Linked DNA regions of Homo sapiens. Each later gene encodes a partner of the first gene's protein in a complex. Each region holds a gene or a part of one and is shown on either strand. Other genes may lie near its edges. A codon is read from its position in the direction of its gene.

Region 1 (8,340 bases):
TCACCCCGAGTCCTGGCGTGCCCTGTAGAAGAGGGAGGACACAGCCTCTCCCGGATGAGTCAGATCGTCAGATCGTCAGATCAGGGCTTTGTAACATTTGAAAGAGCTAAAAACTCGGTGTGTCCTCATCTCCTCCTTACCTAAGGACGCAAATCACATTGTATCAGATAGGCCCACCCTCATGGCCTCATTTGAGCTGATTTACCTCTTTAGAGGCCCTACCCCCAACTGCAGTCACAGCTGAGATCCTGGAGGTTCAACGTTTGCATTTGATGGGGGACAAATGCAGTCCGTGACCGCCCTGCCTCCTGTCCTGTAGATTTCCTTCTGTCTGGTTTTTTCCCCCAGACTTCTCAAAATGTATTACCTAGAGCCATTTGGTTCTTAAAAGAAAATGATGATAAGCATTTTCCCAGATCTTCAAAGTATCTTATAAACATCACTGATAAAAGCTGCATAGCTTGGTGTGCTCTCTCTCTGTTCTTTTTTTTTTTTGTTTGTTTGAGACAGTCTTGCTCTGTTGCCTAGGATGGAATGCGTGCTGTGATCCTGTCTCACTGTAGCCTCAACCTCCTGGTCATCCTCCCACCTCAGCCTCCTGAGTAGCTGGGACAGCAGGTGTACCACCACGCCTGGTTAACTTTTTTTTTTTTTGTGGTAGAGATGGGGTTTTGCTGTTACCCATAGGCTGCCTACTTCAGCCTCCCAGAGCCCCAGGATTATAGGCATGGGCCACTGCGCCCAGCTGTCCATCCTCTTGCTGGAACACGCTATTCATTTCCATGCACTGAGGGCTGTATGGTAGTTACACCTGGGGGTGAAGCTGGTCTGTCCCTGTGAGGTGGCACCAGGTGGCCTCATTTTCAAGCCATCCTTCAGAAACTTCAGAGTTGTCACCTGGCATTTCCTGTCAGCCTGAAAGTTATTTTAAGAAGAATGTATTGTGAGGCCGGGCATGGTAGGCCAATCCCAGTGCTTCGGGAGGCAATGGTGGGCAGATCACTCGAGGCCAGGAGTGCGAGACCAGCCTGGGTGACAGAGGGAGACTAATCTCTACAAAAAATACAAAAAATTAACTGGGTGTGGTGGCGGGGGTATCACTTGAGCCCAGAAGTTCAAGGCTACAGTGAGCCATGATCACACCACTGTACTCCAGCCTGGGTGACAGAGTGACAACCTGTCTCTTTAAAAAAAAAAAACAAAAACAAAAACCAGGCACGGTGGCTTATGCTTGTAATCCCAGCACTTTGGGAGGCTGAGGCGGGCCAATCACAGCCTGGCCAACATGGTGAAACACCATCTCTACTAAAAATAGAAAAAATTAGCCGTGCATGATGTTGAGCGCCTGTAGTCCCAGCTACTCGGGAGGTGGAGGTTGCAGTGAGCCGAGATCGCGCCATCGCCCAGGTGACAGTGCGAGACTCCATCTCAAAAAAAAAAAAAAAACCCGTTATAAATCCATAGGCAAAAATTGGGGTTTGACTTATACGTTGACAGTTTGCATTGCTTGGATTACTAATACATTTGTGAATTTAAATTTGATGTGTTTCCTGTTCTTCCTGTCCTTGGCCCCGTGTCTCTCCAAGGTCTTGTTTCTGTCAGTAGGTGGCATTCCCACACTCCTACAACGTGTTCTCTGTTCCTTGCTTAGAAACACCGCAGACGAAAACAAGTCCTTCCCCTCAAGCTTTCTGAGAAAGGCCTATGACTCTTCTCCTCTTGAGTGTTAAGACTGAATTTTTCCTTATTTTCAAACTCAGAATTAGAATAGGACTTGGAGTCAGCGTGAAGTATGGGAGCCCTCCGGCAGAAGCCAGGTGGCTGTTTCCTTTCATCCGGCCCCTCTCAACCCTAGACAGGCCCCCAGTGAGGGTCTCTGTCCCAGCACTCTCCTGTGGCCTCAGGCAGCAGGGTGTCCACTGGCGGGACAGCTGTGGGCTTTGTGGACAGCCCGCCCAAGGGGGCCGGGGCTGGTGGGTGAGGTCATCGGCGTCACAGCGGTCAGGAATCTGTGATGTTGAGGGTTTTGGGGGAGTTTGCATGGGGTCGTTGGACGCCGCTTGCTCTGTTGACTGTGAGCCACTCATGGACCACCATGAGAACCTGTTTTGCTGCTGGAAAGTCAAGGGTGCGTTCCCCGGGTGGCCGCCTAAGTTGGAGTCCTCCATGTTCCACATCTATTCCAGCACTAGGGTGGTTTCAAACACAGGATCTCAGGAGCCCTCAGAACTCAAGAGATGAGAAATACGCACCCCTCACTGTCTTTAGCAGCCTGGTGGTGACTGAACCTCTCCCAGGAAACTCCAGCAGAAATCTGGAGGGGACTTGAGGGCCACTCCCAGGTCTAACTCAGAGGTGGTCAGTTACTCACCTTCCTAGTTGAAGACCATGTTCCAGGTGTTTGGTCAGTTTTCGTTTTAGTCCATTTCCAGCATTTCCAGTCCTCAAAGCCCTTGGCCCGGGTGGTGGGTGCTGGGGCTACTCTGGCGCGGGCAGTGGGTGTGGTGGCTGCCCGGCCGGGCGTGCTCCTACCTTACCCTCCCAGGGCGCTGTGGAGCTGCCTCCTGACCTTCGGGTGTCCTGCTCTTGCTTGCAGGTGGTACAAGAGAACGAAAACGTCGTGTTCTGTCTGGAGTGTGCTCTGCGCCACGTGGAGAAACAGAAGTCCTGCCGAGGGCTGAAGTTGATGTACCGCTACGATGAGGTCAGTCCCTGCCCGCGGGGTAGGGCAGGGCGGCAGCGTGGCGCCTTCCCTGCTCCCGGCTGGATGTAGGCACTCCGGCCTGGCAGTTCTGTGCCTGGCGGGTAGTCAGGGCTCTGCAGGCCTGAGGTGCCCTGTTCTTAGGCCCTAAACCCATTCAGGCCCCATGTTAGGATCCCAGGGGGAGCGGGGTTCCTGCACGGGCATTTGGATTTGAGCAATGGGCTCTTAACAGGGCTGAGGCTCTTCCTGCAGCCGCCCCCCCGGCTTTCCCAAGGGCTGCACCACTGTGGTTTAGACCCAGACCCTTTTTTGTGACCTGTCCCAGGCACAGTGGGATGGTTGGCAGTGGCCTCTCCAATCTGCACTAACTTGACACCAGCCCCTTCAGGCTGAGAGAGCTGGAAGTGTCTGCGGACACTGGGGCAGGACGGGCCCCATGATGTGAAATCCCGGTGCCTTCCTGCAGGTGCCACGCTCTTCTGGAGAGGGGGGTCATAACAACACACAGCCTGTGCAGCTGGGGGCCGCTCTGAGTGGCGGAACTCCTGGCAGCAGTGCCTCTCCCCTGCTCTGCCCGCCTTCCCCACGTGTGCTTCCCACAGACTCTGATGAGGCTGGTTACGAGGAAGGTCGCCACATTGTGGTCATTGCACATTTGAGGCCACTGAGTGGGGTGGGTGCTGCGGGTATGACTGTGAGGGGCCTGGTGTGTCTGGGGGCCCAGGCAGTGGGGCCAAGTGGTGGGTCTCACTGGATAAGCCTTGAGCTAAATGATCGGAGAGCTGGAAGAAGAACTCTTTGCATCTGTTTTGTTTCAAAGAGCATGCTGGGTGAAGGCAGTAAGCACCTGCTGTGTCCCTCCTTCACCTTAGCAGCAAATGTCCAGGCACAGTTGCAAATAACGAAGCCTTTGCGGCTGAGCACGAGCATGGCTCTGGCACCTTGTGGGGGTGCAGGCGGCGGCACGGGGAGGCTTCCTCTGGCTGCCTGGAAAGCGCTCTGTGAATCATGGGTTGTACCTCTCACCAGCAGCCTGTTTCTGTAGTCGGATGTGTGACGTGACCAGATCCTGGGAAAAGAATGGCATTCAGGGGCTGTCTGAGACCTAATGGTTGGTTTTGATGAATTAGGAGCAAAGGTATTTGGAAACTGCATACTCTGTAGTGGCTGAGTAGTTCAGTAAGCATGTCTGTGCCTCTGTCCCCTGTTGAGCTGTGCATTTTTTTGTTTTTAAGACGGAGTCTCGCTCTGTCGCCAGGCTGGAGTGCAGTGGCGTGATCTCGGCCCACTGCAAGCTCCGCCTCCCAGGTTCACGCCATTCTCCTGCTTCAGTTTCTGGAGTAGCTGGGATTACAGGTGCCCGCCACTACGCACCCGGCTAATTTTTCTTTTTAGTAGAGACAGGGTTTTACCATGTTGGTCAGGCTGGTCTCAAACTCCTGACCTCAGGTGATCAGCTTGCTTCAGCCTCCCAAAGTGCTGGGATTACAGGCGTGAGCCACCACACCTGGCCCATTCTTTTAAATAGGAAATTTCTACCTTGTAAACAGAGACCATTGCAAAATCTTCTCAACCTCCCAGTGTGCCCAGTACACAAATCACCCATGTCTGGGCCTGCTGACCCGGGACAGTCTGCTTTAAACACCCACCCTTGCTGGGGTGGGGGGTGCACCTAGATTGCAAATCCCTGAATTCATGGCTTGGGTTCTCATGGATGGTGAAGCTCTCTGGGGAGTTTGGAGCCATTTGTGTCTCTGGCCCTTGCAGGCTGGCTGAGCAGGGTGTTGGGCCGCCTGCCGCCGAGCCTAGTGTGAGAGCACTGGTCTGGGGCAGGTGCTGCCCACCTGTCGAGCTGCACGCAGGGGAGGGAACGGTGTCCTCCTGTAACCGCACACTGCCGCTCCTCCTCACTTGTCCTTATGGTAAGGTAGCAGTAGCCGCCTAAATGGGTTTTATGGCAGCTCATCCACTTATCCTTTATCAGTGTTTATCATCAGTACCTCAAGCAGCCATGACTATGGTGTTATTACAGATACGTGTGGACCGCCCCGCCTTCCGAAGGCACCTTTAACTTGTGATGGGAGCCAGCTGTCACTTTCTCACCCTCATCTTGAGGGCTTTTCAGAGGACTAGAGATCAGGCCCTCAGATGTTTCATTCCATGGCTGGCTTCCTCTCCTGCCAGGGTCAGCATGGTTCCCAGCCACCCGTGGCCCAGAGAGATGCTCATAAGATGCACGTTTGCTACTCCTCCCCATGTTGTTTTTAAAAATGATATGATTATAGGATGTACTGTGTGAAAGTTACAAACACAGTTTTTGGTGCCGACAGATAAATGATTCTCTTGAGTGAATTACAAGGATATGTATAGGTTGAGAAGTGTTTGCATTTACTTGCATGGCCAGGTTCAGTGGCCGGTAGCTAAAGTGAGTCAAGTAGCTTGGGTATTTGTGTCACCATCCAGGATGTAACAAAGCCCCTGGGTCTCTTTGCTGAGTGCTCCGTGGTAGAGGCAGTGCTCTGGGCTCCCCTGCCAGCCCTGCCCTTATGAGCAGGCAAAGCATGGTGGACCAGGGTGTTGATGAGGATGAAACGGCCATGCCTGCTATGTGGCATCAGGAGGAGCTGGGAAAGGGAGACTCACTGCATCTGAGCCTCTCGGGGTTATTTTAAAACCTGTTGGTTGGTGTGGTGAAGGGGACCGCTGCCCTCTGCCCTAAACTTGCCCCTGCATGGCTCTCAGGGACAGAGCTCTTGTTAATACGGTATGTTAACTGTGTCTTCCTTTCACCCCCAAACAGGAACAGATTATCAGTCTGGTCAATCAGATCTGCGGCAAAGTGTCTGGTAAAAACGGCAGCATTGAGAACTGTCTCAGTAAACCCACACCAAAAAGAGGTCCCCGCAAGAGAGCGACAGTGGACGTGCCCCCCTCCCGTCTGTCAGCCTCCAGTTCATCCAAAAGTGCTTCGAGCTCATCATGAAGATGCCAACGCCCGTGGTCGATTTATATATATTTTTTTGTAATTATTATATTCTAGTTTGGAGTACTTGCTGTAGGATTCAAGCTGTCTTTGCACTAGCTCTAAAGAAGATTTTCTTCTGGTTTTAGAGAACTAATTTTGTTTTAGCATTAAACTGTTGAACTTTTTTTTGTACTTAGAAAACCTAGATACTGCAGTCAGATTTTGGAAACTGCCGTATAGTCACTGTTTTAAAAACCCCGGAGGGGCTGTATTAATTTGTATTGCCCCATGGCTGACAAAAGCCTTTTTTTTTGGTTTTGATTTTTTTTTTTTTGTAACTGTTGGGGGGAAAAAGGCTTTTTAACCCATTTTTGAAGAGGGTGAAGTTTGGAGAACAAATTTAAAAACCATCAGTCATGTGAGCAGATTTTTTAGAAGGGATAGGAGACACACGCGCACACACACACACACACGAAACTTGAAATGGCTTTGCTTTGGCTGTCGTCTTCTGCCGTGTGCCAGATGAGCTTGTGATCTGGGAAGCCGGGGCACCCCCGTTTTGTTTCTCTGGGCGGTTGTGGCAGCTGAAGGCGGACGTTGTTTCCTAACCATAGGTGGAACGAGGAGACGGGAGCGAGTGGGCTCTCCACCAGCACATCACTATGCATCTGTTCCAGGAAAGAAGAAAAGCGAGCGAGGAAGACGGAAAAGACTGCCTGCCTTGGAGGGGTCACATGAGGGAGACCTGTGCCTGATTTCATTAGGAAATCCATTCTGTTATTTTTTGGTGCTGTTGGCTACTTTATCAAAAAACCCTTCAATAGCATCCTTAAGATTTAAAAAAAAAAAAAAAAAAAAGGAAAAAAAAGTGATGGAAGCCGTAAGTGCTTCTTTGTCATCGACGTGCAATCTTTCTAACATTCCATCTCCATCTCACCGCTTCTTGTTTGACACCTTCACAAGTCAGCATTAATCTTTCTTTTAAAACTTGTTTCATTTATGATCATGTAGAGAGCCACTAGGAGGCCTGCAGTTATTTTTGAATGTGAAAATGCATTTGCGTTCATCTTGTCTATTTTTTCTCTTCATGTTGTAACAAAAAGGAAAAAAGAAAAAAAAATCCCATCCCTTTTGTACATATGCCTGTAAATTGTTTTAAATACTTGAGCCTTTTTCTCGGTGGGGGGTGGGGAGGGGGGTGAGAAGACAAGATGAAGAAAAGCCTTACATTTCAGTTTCTTCATCGGTTGGATTGGATGCTTACAGGGTTTTTCTTGTAACATTTATAAGTGCTGCTTACATCACTGAACAACAACAAAAAAATAATAATGGAGTAGCTGTTGCCCTTCTCCGGTTGTGTGTACAGTATGTGTGGAATAAAAAAGGGAAACTGTTTTCACAAGCTGTTCTTTGTTTCATAATTGGATTCATCAATCCCGTAGCTACCCATATTGCACTGAGCTTGCCAGTGGTGACTGCCAGGAACGTCCTATGATCCACTTTGTTGGTTGTTGTTGCAGAAGACTGAACTGTTTTGGAATATTTAACAATTACAGAAACAGTCAAGTGTTTTCCAATGTGGTTGTCCGGTTTCTATGGCCTTGCTGTGTACTTTCCCTCTTTTTGACAGTAAACTTCTGCCTATGGCTTACAGTTTGACATTTAATTTATTAGCGCTGCTCTGCACCCCTCCCTTGGGAGGGAGACTTCATGTGGTTTATTGCGAGTTTTTTGTTTACTTTTCAGGTTTGTACTACAAGGTTTAATAATAAAAACAAAGTTTTTTGGACATTTGTCTGTCTTGTGGAAGATGACTGAATGGAATGAGCTCTTTCTTTTCTCGTCCACGGGCAGGGGGCAGAGGATTCCCCCCAGCCAGGGAGCAGAGCCACCCCCCACACTGCAGTCCTGCTCCCACCTGCCACTGGGTCCCCTTCAGCCTAACCTAATGGTTTCCATGTGGCCTGCGGCCGTCCCCCTCATTTCCCATCGAGCTGCGCCCCCCTGCTGAGCTTGCTTTCATGATGAGACGACACTGGGTGCATTCAGGGTGGTATGGCTGCAGACAGACAGACCCCCTCATCCCGGCGGGGAGTCTGTCCCCTCTCTCTCATTGGGCTGGAGGAGTGATGGCAGGAACACATCTCCAGGGGACCAGTTTCTTTTCATAAAGAATGGAGGATTGCTTTGGGCTTGTTTCTGTTCTTTTGGGCCCAGGAGTGTGAAAAAGTAGGGGTTGGACTGGCTGGCTACTGGACTAATGATACTTACTTACTTCTGTAATGATCAACGGAAAACCCCAAGCTTTGCCAGAGTGGTTTGGCTACAGTCAGCTCTTCTACAGGAAGTGGCATTTTCCACTTGTGAAACGGTAGGTCATTCCCTGCCTCATGCAGAACTCAGCCCTGTGGAGCCTCCACCACCTGGCCCAGGCCCTGCCCACATGCAACCTCCCGGGGTGGCCCTCAATGACCTGCACGTCCCTTCACTCTAAGGAACCCTGAGTTACAGTGGCCTTAAGGACATGTGTATTTAGAAGCCTTTGTGTACAAACTAGCTCTGTGCGCTCTCAGTTTACCGTCCTCACACTTTATTGTTAGCTGTTCTTTAAGTTTCTCACACATTATTGGCAATTATGTAAAAATCAAGAACCTCTATAAAACAACCTGGC
Region 2 (7,000 bases), on another chromosome or scaffold:
TAGTTTTACTCTTGAGGGAGCCAAATAATGGCAAAAGGCCAAAGCAGATGGGGTGTGGGGGAATATGTTTTTGTGTTAGAGTTCAGGTAACCTGAGCAGTTACTACTGTTAATGTGAGTCAGAGAATTACAGGCACATATTTTACATTTATTGTGTTACCTGCCATTTTATTGAACTTTTTGAGATCATATGACTGCAGAGTAGTTGGCTTCTGCGAGAGTACTAATGGATGCCTTGGTAGTAAGATCAGAGGGCTGAATCTGGAGACTTGTCTTTTTGCTTAAGCAAAAGCAAAGATGCAGGGAATCCCTGTGGCAAGATGCAGGTGCAAATTACTGCCCTGTGTCTCTTTCCTCGTTGGGCAAGTGAAGATGGTAGTACCATGTCTGTTGCACAGTATCATTCTTTACTTTGAGAATGGAATAGGATGGAGGTCACCCTGTACATATATTAGACACTCAGCAAAGACTTGATTTTAGTTTAAAGATAAAATGGAAGCATGGTGGCTGTATTACATTTTCATTTGATTCCATCTTGATTTGCCTTGGGAGGAGATGGGTAAATTAAGTGATCAGAAGTAAAATAAGCAACGTGCCCTATTAACGAATGTTTTGTGTGGCCTCTGTATTGGCAGCTCAGTGTTTAGCCAGAATGTAAAGAAACTGATATATAAAAACGTCTTAGAGTTTTTAAAATTTCAGTTCTCTAGTGTTAAAAGGTAATTTTACAGAAAAAATGGCAAGTGAACACATGTTGAAACTTTTACTCAGAGGGAACCAGGCAAATGTTATACAGTAATGGTTAACCCGCAAAATCAAAACAGTACAAATTTATTAATATATGGAGTAAAGGAATGGAGAGATGAATTCCAAATGGAGACAGAAACTTTTTTTTCCCTTGAGTGGAAGGGAAGACATTTTGAACCTCTACTGTAGAGACAAAATTTACATGTCTATCAGTTATTCATAATGAAAAAAGAGTTGTGGCTGGGCGCAGTGGCTCACACCTGTAATCCCAGCACTTTAGGTGGCTGAGGTGGGAGGATCCTTTGAGTCCAGGAGTTTGAGACCAGCCTGGGCGACATCGTGAAACTCTGTCTCTACCAAAAATTAGCTGGGTGTGGTGGCCAGCTCCTGTTGTCCCAGCTACTCAGGAGGCTAAGGTGGGGGGAAGATCACTTGAGTCTGGGAGGTGGAGGTTGCGTTGAACCAAGGACAGAGTGGGTGACAGAGGGAGAGCCTGTCTCAAAAAAGAGTTGTAAGATAGCTCAAAGACATAGTGGAGGGCTATAGTCTGGTAACTTGGAAGGATGTGCTATATAGATAATGCATAGTTTTCCACTGAGATACAGAATTGTTTTCTACGTTTGATGTTAATTATGTGAATACAACTGAAAAGGTGGAGAGAAAAAGAGATTAAAATACCACATTTTCTATTTCTGTAAAGACTAATGATATTCACATTAAATTACAATTCAAATATTTGTTGAGTACGTACTGCTTGCTACCCGCCTATTATTTCATTTATGATATTTTTTAACCTTCTATATAAAACCAACTTTAGGAAGCAATAATTTAAAAATAGCCCCTAAAGCAGTGTTTCCTAGGCTGTTTAATAGGCATTTCATGGAAAAAAAAAAAAAAAAAGGCTTCCTCTGGAATGTATTTTAGAACTGCTGCCCTAAGATCCTAGATTAAATAAATCTTTTCTTTCCAAAGGAGACATTGGAATCTGTAATCAGGAGGTAGTGGAATCCTCTTCTGAGATTAGAGAGCTGAGATTAGAGGGCCACTCGTGTGTGAGATAAGGTATGAATTAGGAGAATTTTCAAGGTTTCCTGCAGTCATTTCTTTTTTTTGGAAGGATTTACTTTAATTGTGATTGAGAGTCTCTGGAGTTCTGATTTATGAGTATTATTACTTTAGAACAATGAGACAGTTTTAACTTGTAAATAGCATAGAATATATGTAGCACTTTAAAAAAATTCTAAATGTTTTGCGTTATAAGCAGAATTTGAATAACAGGATTTTAAAAAGTGACATCTAATGTAGAAGCCATTAACACTCCTGCTTCAAACGGCTCCCCAGCTCCATGCTCCAGACTGAGCAGCAGTCAAATACATTATGAAGACATATACATCAGTCAGATTTAAGAGTCACAGCTTTGGGATGGAATTACCAGCCAAGAGACCAGTTAGGCTTTTTCAGCACTTCCAGTACCTTTTGTAAAGAGCTGTAAAGATTCACTGATACAGTGTATTAAAGTGACTGGAACAGACCAGTGCCTTATTAAAGACAGTATTACTCTTCCATTATTCTCATTAGTATTTATTTCATTTTCATTTTTGTTGAAATATAAAATATCTACAAACCTTCTAACCTGTAGCTGGATTATGTTTATCCTTATGTGGAGGCAAGAATACATTTTTTTCTTCTTGTAGAAATTATTTCTCTTAGGTCAGTCAGCATCTTCCCAGTAGAGTTATTTACTGCTAAAAACAGTATTGCTGTTTCATGTAATTTTTCCTCATTTACTGCTTACAGGATGACGCTGTCAGTATAGAAAGTGGTACAAACACTGAACGCCCTGATACACCTACAAACACGCCAAATGCACCTGGAAGGAAAAGTTGGGGAAAGGGAAAATGGAAGTCAAAGAAATGCAAATATTCTTTCAAATGTGTAAATAGTCTCAAGGTATGTGCAAAAAAAGATCCTTTGGGCTGAATGCTAGGCTTCAGAAATTATTTCTCTGTGGCACGCATTTCGTACTCAGGATACTCTGTCAAGTTGTAAATATTTTAAAGTTACAATGTTTTCTGAAGGGTTTTTTTTTTTGTAGTTCAGACTGCGTATCTATTTTAGTCCATCCCATGTTTAGTTTTTTGGTTTTGTTTTTTGTTGTTTTAATTTAAATATGTGACAGTGTTGCAGGATGTTTTTGCTTTATTGTTTGCATTCAAATTATAAGATTTGGGTAACTATTACTCTTTATATTTTAGTAAAACTTAAAAAACATAAGCCACTTCTGGCATCAGTTTTTAAAAAGAACTGAATGTAACCCATTAACTTTGACTAAGTATAAATTGAAACAGATGTTTTACTTTGTACAGTTTCTGTCCTTTGTTTTATTTATAACTGTTTTCAAAGAAAAAGGTGTAAAAAATTTTTAAACTTTTTAATATTAAATATTTAGGGAAAAGGGGGTTTTGGTTATTTAAATTAATCTGTCCCCAATAGTATTTTTATTTACTTTATAAAAGGGGTTACTGGTGTTTAAGATATTTTCTTTTATATATGTCCAGTTTGTTTTTTAAATGTGAGGCTATTTTTTTCTATACTGAGGAAAAATGTGTATTATCTCATACATATGTAAGTTAAAACCTTTTCTAAATATCCAAATATATTTTTTATAAGTAAAGTTTTGGGAAAGCATAAGAAGCTATGACTATGACATTTTTCTGTCTGTGTAGCAAAAATTCGATGCTCAGTGTGTCAGATTTTGCTCCTGTAAAAGGAGAGAAATTAATCTCAGCATATTTTTTAAAAGTCAATTATAGTTTCATGTGCATATTTATTTACATTAACGTACTACTTTTAGGTACTGTACCTGGAAGATGTTTTTAGCTGCCTTTTATACTTAAGGCAGTATTTCAAAATCCTAAAGCTGTGGCTTTTCAAATGATGAGAAAACGAAAGACGTACTTTAAAAGTGAAAACAGTGCCTTAAACTGCATCTGAAAGTCAGTGTTAAATGCCAGAAGTTGGCCAGTAAAATCCTAAAGCTGAAAAATAACTTTGTGAACAAAAGTGCATAATTGTTCTTTGTACATCTCCTATAGCCTCCTGGTAACTGTGCAGTTACAGTTTATTTCTTCCCCTAGTCCCCAGTGTTCAGATATTCTCATTCTGACTAACAGAAAACAGTGATTTGAATGGAGTCTGCTATGCTTCACTTTACAAGGGAAAAATTTAGCCTTATAAAATTTAGTGAATGCCAGAGAAGCTATTAAGGCCATCTGTTAATTTCCTGTTTCAGAAAAATAAATTGTGTCCTTTTGTATCCACCAAAATTATCCAGTTTATTGTGATTCAGAATATGATTGGCTTATTAAGAAAAAGGCAAATATTATAAGTGTTTTCGTAGGTAAGCGGTTATTACCTAACTTGTGATTTCAGCCTTTGGTTGTGATAAAACTTTATCATACACAATATTTTAAAATGTGAAAACTAGACTAGTAGACATCTTTTAATTTTAGTGTCAAAAGTTAGCTTATGTATGATACACAAAATAATGTATTGCATTTTGGAAAAAAGAAGGGGATAGGTTAGTTTACTGTCATTTTCTGGTTTGTAAGATACATTAATCTTTTCTTATTTCATGATTATTTTATAGGAAGATCATAACCAACCATTGTTTGGAGTTCAGTTTAACTGGCACAGTAAAGAAGGAGATCCATTAGTGTTTGCAACTGTAGGAAGCAACAGAGTGAGTGTTAAGGGGTCTATTTAGTATTTGGCTTGATTTCCAGATCTGGTGTTAATGTAATATTGAAATAGAATAATTTCAAAGTGCATTTTGTGAAGCTGGTTTAGCAATATGATTCTTTCATGTAAGAGTGAAGGTTTCTAGAAATTAATTAAAACTAGTATGCATGGCTGAAAATACATCTATATTTAATATATTACCCCTAATTATTTATGAAACAGGTTTTATACTTGTATTTGTCTTCATAAATACTTGGTTGAAAGAATTGGCGTCCTTTTTTTTTTTTTTTAATTGGCGTTCTTTTTAAAGTGATTTTGGTATTTATCATTCAAATAGCGTAAGAACTGGCTGTGATTTTTTTAAAATTAAGGTAATGAATGGCTCTATAAATGAAGCATAAATCCAGTGGATTTAAATAAGTTATTGAGATGTTTTAATTACTTGCAGTAAACATTTGAGTTTGCTGGGTTTTTTTGTTTTGAGACAGGTAGTGTTTGGTGGTGATTGTTGTTGTTGTTGTTGTTGTTTGTTTTTGAGAGAGAGAGAGTCTTACTCCTTCCTCCAGGATGGAGTGCAGTGGTTAATCAAGGCTTACTGCAGCCTCAACTTCTGGGGCTCAGGTGATCCTCCCATGTCAGCCTTCTGAGTAGCTACAGGCATGCACTACCATCCCTGGCTAATTTTTTTTGTAGGGATAGGTTTTCACCGTGTTGCCCATGCTGGTCTTGAACTCTTGGGCTCAAGCAATCTACCTGCCTTGGCCTCCCAAAGAGCTGGGGTTGCAGTCATGAGCCACCATGTCCAGCCTTTTAAGGAAATTTTATAATGACATGTAAGGCTCTAGGCCTTTTACTATTTGACAAGGTCAATTCATTGAAACTCTAAATATTTTTAAGTTACCACTGAAGTTGATAACATGAAATAATAGCTTTTTTTCTTCTGTTTTTGGTGTTTAGTCAAATGTAGGTTTTAAGATAATGTAGTCTGCTTATAGTTGTTTAGTTCCTAGATTCTTTGAAAACAACAATTCAGAGGAAAAATTTTGCGGTTTTAAGAAAAGGTTGAGGTTATTTTTTTCCTAGTTGGGAATGTAGTGCATTAATTAAATTTGAGTCCACTTTTAAGACACCACTGTAAACCTAAGTTAATATTTAGCTTTGATAGTATTATAATTGGTATAGTTTGTGCTCCAGTGTGCTGATTGCAGTGTTTTAGGTTTTCTAACAAAAAGAATCCCTATTTTTATTTAAAGTGACATAAAGGGGTGTCATATAGTTTATTGAATTATAAAAAGTTCTGCTGTTAGAATTTCTTTAAAAGGAAGAAAGAAAACAAAAACAATTACCACATAAGACATAACCTAGTTAGCAGCCATATAAAGAATTTTTTTTGAACATTAACATAGAGGAGATAATGAATTAATAGGTTGTGATGATACACAGGATCTTCAGAGGTCTTCAGTACTATTATAAAATAATAATAGGTTTTTGCTAATGTGACTGACTATAAGCTATAAGAAAAATGGGGCCGGGCACAGTGGCTCACGCCTGTAATCCCAGCATTTTGGGAGGCTGAGGCAGGTGGATCACCTGAACTCAGGAGTTCGAGACCAGCCTGACCAACGTGGTGAAACCCTGTCTCTACTAAAAACACAAAAATTAGCTGGGCATGATAGCGAGTGCCTGTAATCTCAGCTACACGGGAGGCTGAGGCAGGAGGATCACTGGAATCCGGGAGGCAGAGGTTGCAGTGAGCCAAGATCATGCCATTGCACTCCAGTCTGGACGACAAGAGTGAAACTCTGTCTCAAAAAAAAAAAAAAAAAAAAAAAAAAAGAAAATGGAAAGAAATTTATAAAAGTTTAGTATTACAAAATTGTGTATGGTGTATGTATAGTTTTAATTTTAGAGTATGCAACAAATGAAAAAGGCTATCATACATGTGAAAGTTAATGTTTGATTATCTGTACCCATGAGAAAATAATTCATTAAGCAAATTGTAGACTTTTAAATATGTAACTAATATGTAAATACTCCAAAACTATCCAAAGACTTATTTTTATTTGAATTTTTATTTTTTATGGTTTTTTTTTTTTTTTGAGACTGAGTCTCTCTCTGTTGCCCAGGCTGGAGTGCAGTGGTGCAATCTTGGCTCACTGCAACTTCTGCCTCCTGGGTTCTAGCGATTCTCCTGTCTCAGCCTCCTGAGTAGCTGGGACTACAGGCACATGCCACCACACCCACCTAATTTTTGTATTTTTAGTAGAGACGGGGTTCCACCGTGTTAGCCAGGATGGTCTTGATCTCCTGACCTCGTGATCCACCCGCCTCGGCCTCCCAAAGTGCTGGGATTAAAGACATGAGCCACTGTGTCCGGACTTATTTTATTTTATTTTTTTTTGAGACAGAGTTTCGCTTTTGTTGCCAGGCTGGAGTGCAATGGTGCAATCTCGGCTCACTGCAACCTCCGCCTCCCGGGTTCAAGTGATTCACCAGCCTCAGCCTCCTGAGTA

Evidence for each region. Proteins that work in one complex are often made in the same cells at the same time.
Region 2: the proteins of JARID2 (region 1) and EED are in contact, whole or in part, in a cryo-EM structure (PDB 6C23), measured with the Homo sapiens proteins. Residues at the interface, in NP_004964.2 of Homo sapiens: Pro109, Gln114, Arg115, Lys116, Phe117; in NP_003788.2 of Homo sapiens: Pro95 (codon at 4,411), Phe97 (codon at 4,417), Tyr148, Arg306, Asn307, Tyr308, Cys324, Asp362, Ile363, Trp364, Tyr365, Arg414, Asp430.

What each region holds. Positions count from the first base shown.
Region 1 is NC_000006.12:15,514,565-15,522,904, forward strand, and holds the end of JARID2 (protein Jumonji), read left to right. Parts: intron 1-2,596; coding exon 2,597-2,704; intron 2,705-5,504; coding exon 5,505-5,687; 3' UTR 5,688-7,478; downstream 7,479-8,340.
Region 2 is NC_000011.10:86,247,753-86,254,752, forward strand, and holds part of EED (polycomb protein EED), read left to right. Parts: intron 1-1,696; exon of another isoform or gene 1,697-1,808; intron 1,809-2,543; coding exon 2,544-2,696; intron 2,697-4,395; coding exon 4,396-4,488; intron 4,489-7,000. UniProt on the Homo sapiens protein: Polycomb group (PcG) protein. Component of the PRC2/EED-EZH2 complex, which methylates 'Lys-9' and 'Lys-27' of histone H3, leading to transcriptional repression of the affected target gene.